2 separate regions of the Homo sapiens genome follow, and region 1 is linked to region 2. A link means that fine-mapping ties the variant in region 2 to the expression of a gene that starts in the linked region. Tissue or cell type: thyroid. Region 2 holds a variant in brackets; the other region holds the start of a gene. All regions are shown on one strand. Distances are from middle to middle.

Region 1 (2,823 bases), 26 kb before region 2:
CCACCCCCCACCACCACTCACACATGCCATCTCACAGACTCACTCACATTCACACACCCCTACATATTCACACACACACACATCATCTCACACCCACTCGCGTAGTCACACACACATGCCATCTCACACAGGTACACACACACACACACACACACACACACGATCACACACGCGCGCGCACACTCACGAGCCGAGCCTCTCGCGGATCTCGTAGACGCTGCTGATGTCCTCCGTGTGTTTCTTCAGCAGCAGCATGTCTGCAGGGGCAGGGGAGAGGTGATGGGGGTCTCTCCCCGCCCCGCCGGGGGCAAGGGCAGCTTCCTCCTCCACCCCCTGCCAGGCAGGCCTCAGCCATTGCCGCTGCGCGCTCGACCCTCCCCTCCCCCGTCCAGGTCCACACCCCCAGACGGACGCCTCCCAGCGAGGCCACCGCATACACGCCTCCACATCCCAGGCCTACAGCTGCTATCCCACGCACCCTCCCCCGCACCCCGAAGGCGACCAGCGCCTGGATGCTGCCTCTCTGCCTCCACACATCCGGCCGCTTTCCAGAAGGCTCCATGCTCACCCACGCCGTCCCTCCCCCATCCACACATCTACAGCGCCCAAGCCCCCACCCCCGCCTAGACCCGCCACCCATGGCACAGCGCCCACAGGCACCCGCTGCCCAAGCCACCAAGCCGCCCGGGATGCACCTGCGACCCCCGCGCGCAGCCACCTGCCAAGACCGCGGCCACCCACGCGGCCGCAGACGCAGCCCAGCCCTCGGCGCCGCGGAGCAGGGGGACCTGGCAGCCTGGGCCGCCCGCGTCCCGAGCTGCGTGGACCGAGCGCGTGCGGGCAGGGGGCGCGCCAGGCGTGACAGGTGTGCTGCGGACGCGCAAGGCTGCGGCGGCCGCGGGCCGGATCCGGTGCGCCCCCGCCCCGCGCGTCCCCGCGCCCCGGAGCAGGTGCAGACCTGGAGCGGGTGCCGCAGCGTCGTGCCGCGCAGTGGCCGCAGCGCCAAGCCCCCCGCCCGCGCCCCGCCGGCCCCGCCCCCTCCGCGCACGCCCCCGCCAGCCGCCCAAGCACGCAGTGGCCCAGCGCGGCCGCGGCGCCGCAGGGCACCTTGTAAGGCAATCGCCGGGATCCGGCTCGGGTGCCGGCCGCCACCGCCCAGCCCACTGCTCGCTCGCGCCGCCTCCCGGAGCTGCGGCCCGGCTGGGCCGGCCCCAGGGCCTTTGCACCACCGGTGGCTGTCTCCCGGAGAGCTCTTCGGCCACAGGTCGGCAAGGCTCTCTGCCTTCCAGTCTCTGCCTTCACCGCCTCTCCGAGGACAGGCTGACCCGGCCACTTGCCCGAAAGCAGCCTCCATGCCTAGCTCCAGGACCCTGCAACCCTGCACCACAGCTCTGCCACCCTGGGCTCCCGGCACTCACTGGGCTCCCTCTGGCTCCACCATTAATCCCTCACCCTCGCTTTCTTCTCTACCCAGCAGCCAGAGCATTCCTTTTATTGAGATCATGTCACCCTCCTGCAGCTCTCTATGTCAATCCAAGTCAAAGCATGAGTCCTTAGGGGGCGGCCTAACGACTGCCCTGGCCCCTCCTCCTCCACCTCTTCCCCGGCCACACTGGCCTCCTGACGGCCCTAGCCTTTGCTCCCCTGCCTGGAATGTTCTTCGATCAGATATCTGCCTGGCTTGGCTCCTCGTTCCATCAGATCTCGGCTCAAATGTCCCCTCCTCAAACCGGCCTCCCCCGCCCTGCCCCTGCCAATTCTCTCCGCATAACCCTGCCCTGTCTTTAGAACGTCCAACCGCAAAAATCACCTTCTTCGCCTGGTCTTCCTCACCAAAGCGTCCGCTCCCAGAGAGTGTATCTCCGCGAACCCAACCAAGACGAGCCCAGGAAATAAGTGCGGGTGACCGAATTCAATCCTGCATCCAACAGTTACTGGACCCCCCTCGCTGCTCGCCATCCAGTCCCATGAGGTTGTGGCCAGCATCACAAGGGTTCCGTCAAGTGACCGTGGGCCCTGGCATGACACGACGTCTTCAAGAGAGTCCACGGGGCAGGAAGAGTTTTTAAAAAATCATTTTTCCAGACCTCAACTCCCATATATACTCTGTGTAAAAACTGGGAAATCTGAGAAGGCCCCTAGCAGCTCTTGCCCCCTGGCCTTTCCCAGTCACCCCTCCCAGGACACTGCAGAAGGCTCCAGGGACCCCAGCACTCAGAAACTCCAGTCCCACCTGCTCCTCTATGTGAAAATGGTTTCCTGGGACCGACATCTAAAACAGAAAAAAATAGGAATGGAACTGATGGTGAGCCCCTTCTCATGACAGCAGGAAGTGCAATTTGTTTACAGATACCTACAGATAGTTCCCCAGAATGTCTAATACGCCAATGGTGCTTTGCCCAAGCAGAGTTCTACAACATGGTCCTGGGTTATAAAAAGAAATAGAAATACACATATTTCTGTGCCCCAGAAAAGTAATAAAAAACTGCCCGCGTGGAAAGAGATGGCACAAAGAGACCTATCTGAGGGGCAGCAGATGGAAACTGGAGGCCAGAAGGAAAGCACCCACCTCCAAAGTGGGCCTGGGAAAGACGAGCCAGCGGGCAGGTATTGGTCCACGAGGTGACTCAGGTGGCCCTGGCCTCATGTAAAAGCTGATGGCACAGTTTTTGTTTGAATCATTGTATCATGGGGTTTTTTTTGGTTTGTTATTGTTGTTGTTGTTTGAGACAGGGTCTCACTGTCGCCCAGGCTGGAGTGCAGTAGTGCCATCTCAGCTCACTGCAGCCTCTGCCTCCTGGGTTCAAGCAATTCTCCCGCCTC
Region 2 (2,890 bases):
ACCCCTGAGCTCAGGCCAACTGCTTTATACACTGTCAGCCAAGTCTCTGCCTGGATGACAATCACCCTCTGCTAATTGTTCTCCGCACCTCCAGGCCAAATGCCCTCCAAGCCACCTCATGCACCACGATGACACTAAACACACAGAAAAAAGACATTGAAAAAAGGAAACTTCACAGAGGCCTGTCACTTAAAGAGGGTCCTGAAATAGAGACACCATTTCCTCAGGACTTAGCTCCTGCATCAGGGGTTAGGACACAGAGATCAACAAGCAGCAGGCTTTGCCCTCAAGCAGCTCGCAGTCTAGTGGAAGATGGGTAAGAAAACAGATCAGGACGCCCACGGGTGCAGATGCCCTGGAACAGAAGCTGATCCAGGAAGGCGCGAGCCTGCAGGCCGCCCTCCAGTCTAGGCTGGGCAAGCACCTCAATTTTCATCTCTAAGAGCCTGTGCCCACACCCCCTGCCCCGTTGTTGTTCCATCACTCCACTAGAAAGGGCGCTCCAGAAGCTGGCCTCGTGCAGCTTTCTGTCTGCTGCTGGCCTAGGCAGAACAGCGGAAGAAGCCATCAGGGCTGGTGAGGGAAGCACCCGTTTGGACTTTAGCCTTTCAAAGCTCAGAGAAGGGTGAGCTCAGGGAGGTCCAAGGTAGCTGAGAGCACTTCCTGGAAAAGTGGGATCAGCCTTCGGCCTTGGCACAGCAACCAGAGGGTATCGCCCACGTGTCCCCTACTCCCTCAGACACCACCTCTCAGACCGCCTGGAAAGGGACAGAACTCGTCATGAGGCGGCTGTGCTCTGAGCACAAGGGAAGGGCGACAGGATGCTAGAGAAGGGAACCACTGGCCTGGGCCCGGACAGGGCAGGCAGAAGCGAGCATGCACAGCAGGCCGTCAGCTACCCTGCCAGCATCAACATCCTTCAGGGGTCCCCCCAGTTCCAGGAGACACACCTCTAACCTGCTCCCCTGACCCTTCCGCCCAGTCCTCATGCAGACACCAGGCATGGCAGAGGCCCTGCAGGGTGGAAGCACTGTGCTGCGGGCGGGGGCTGCCTTCCTCATGTGCTACTGGAGAGTAGCACAGTGCAGGGGCCTGGGCACTGGTGCCAGGCAGGAAGCCCCGGTACTGGCCTGGCTTGCTGTGGGCCTGGAAGACACAGCTCTGAGGGAGCCACGGGAGGGACACCCTGGAGCCAGCACAGCGCTCTGGTGGCAGGCACACACCCAGCACGTTCTCAGGGCCAAGGGCCCC[A/T]GCCCATTCCCAGCCCCTTTCTGCCTAGCTCTGCCCTGGGCCAGCTCCAGGTCACTGCCAAGGACAAGTCTCCTCTCCCAGCTGGCATTAGTCAGAGGTCATCCTGCAAACCTTCGGGGGGGGGGGCAGGGAGTGACTAGTGGCGTTCTGCCACGTTCTGTCTGTCCCAAATGTGACGAACAGGAACCCAGAGAAGGCAAGCGAGTCCTCTACCCGGAAGCCCCGCCGGTTTACTGAGCCTCCCAAGCTGCCCACACCCAGGGAGGCAGACAGGACACACACTCGGCGGGTGGCCCTGAAGCGAGGCCTGGCCCAGCCCGGGGAGCAGGAGGACAGAGAGGGCAAGGCCTTCGAGAACAGGTGTGAGCCTGGCCTTCAGTGGGGGAAACAGGTTGAAGGGCTGTGGCCGCTTGGGGGCTCCAGGCAGGAGAGAAAGCAGAGCCCTCCCCACAGCTGCAGTCACACACCGCACCACGTACACACCATGACAACTTTTATTGCCCTCAAGAGAAACTCCAGTCCACCTGCTCCACCCACCCTCCTGCGGGACCAAAGAAAACACCCAGAGGGCAAAACAAAAAGGGGCTCAAACCAACAGGAAGTCAGCCCCACCGCAAGCCGGACTACAACTAACTCGTGCTCTCCACGCTCAGGCGTGGAAGCCAAGGCTGTGCCAGGCCTGGCCAGGCCAAGCAGGATGACAGCAAACGCATTCTGAACGTGTAGCAATCAGGTCCCCTGTAATGTGCTTGGAGAGTGTGGACAAGGGCCGAGATGACGAGCTATGAGCTGTGGAAGGGAATGGGGGAAGCAGAAGGGCACAAACAGAAGTACTGGAGGGAGAGGCCGGGCTCTCAGGAAGCAGCAGGCACGTGCCAGGTGGAAGCCAGCTGCAGGCAGGGGAGGAAGGAGGCCCTTACTCTTCCTTCTTGTCCATGGGACCATCTACTGCAGCCTGGAAAGGGACAGAAATCCCACAGCAGTAGGTTGGCCGGGTCCACTCCTCCCCTGCCACCTCCAGCCCCATGCCCCAGAGGTCCACCTCGGTTCCCCTCTCTCCTAACAACAGCTATTCAAGTGAACAAGGGGCCCCCTCCCCAGCTGCACCCAAAGGCCTGCCAGGGTGGGAGCGTCAGCCCTGGCCCACGCTCTAGGGAAAGCCCTGGACCTAACGCCAGCCAGGGAGGACTGCCAGGACCTCACTGGGGGCTGAGTCCTGGCTGCAGGGAACAGCAAGGCATCCAGTCCCCTTCAAGACCTGATCAGACCCTTCCCAACTCTGCACACCTTTGACAGGTGCCCTCGAAGCCCATCTGCCAAGCCTGCCCCATACAGAGGGCATGGGTGCCCCCTTTGAGGCTGGACCCTTCCTCCCCACCTGCTGTGGTGCCCAAACTTGGGCCACCAAGCACTGAGGCCAGCTGTCCAAAGTTAGGAGTATTTATGTGGCCCTCACTCCCAACGTCAAGACCGCCTGGGCTTCCAGATGCGGCCTGGTGCACCCAAGCTAGTCTGAGGACTCAGATCAGGCCTAGGGCAGCAGGTGATGGCCACAACTAGCGCCTGCTAGGGAAGGTGCCTTTTTGACACCTTGTGCCCTCACTTGCCCAGGGATCTTTGCCCTACGTCACTCCCCAGC

Which allele goes with the higher level. Positions count from the first base shown, and alleles are read on the strand shown. Sizes are in standard deviations (SD) of each study's normalised expression.
With allele T in place of A in region 2, the expression in thyroid of the gene that starts at base 992 in region 1 is lower (moderate effect, 0.51 SD a copy in GTEx).

The links. PIP is the estimated chance that this variant, and not a neighbour inherited with it, causes the effect.
Region 1: PNCK starts here. The variant in region 2 is the best candidate, but not a certain one, in a credible set for the expression of PNCK in thyroid (GTEx, PIP 0.79).

Annotation. Positions count from the first base shown.
Region 1 is chrX:153,672,822-153,675,644 of GRCh38, forward strand. PNCK (pregnancy up-regulated nonubiquitous CaM kinase) reads right to left here and starts at 992. Exons shown (of 12, transcript NM_001366977.1): 1 at 959-992; 2 at 188-257. The coding sequence starts at 255.
Region 2 is chrX:153,698,770-153,701,659 of GRCh38, forward strand. BCAP31 (B cell receptor associated protein 31) reads right to left here. Exons shown (of 8, transcript NM_001256447.2): 8 at 1,723-2,206. The coding sequence ends at 2,168. Among named protein-coding and RNA genes, the nearest start is that of SLC6A8, 12 kb to the left of the region's middle. The variant A/T (reference allele first, on the strand shown) is at 1,252.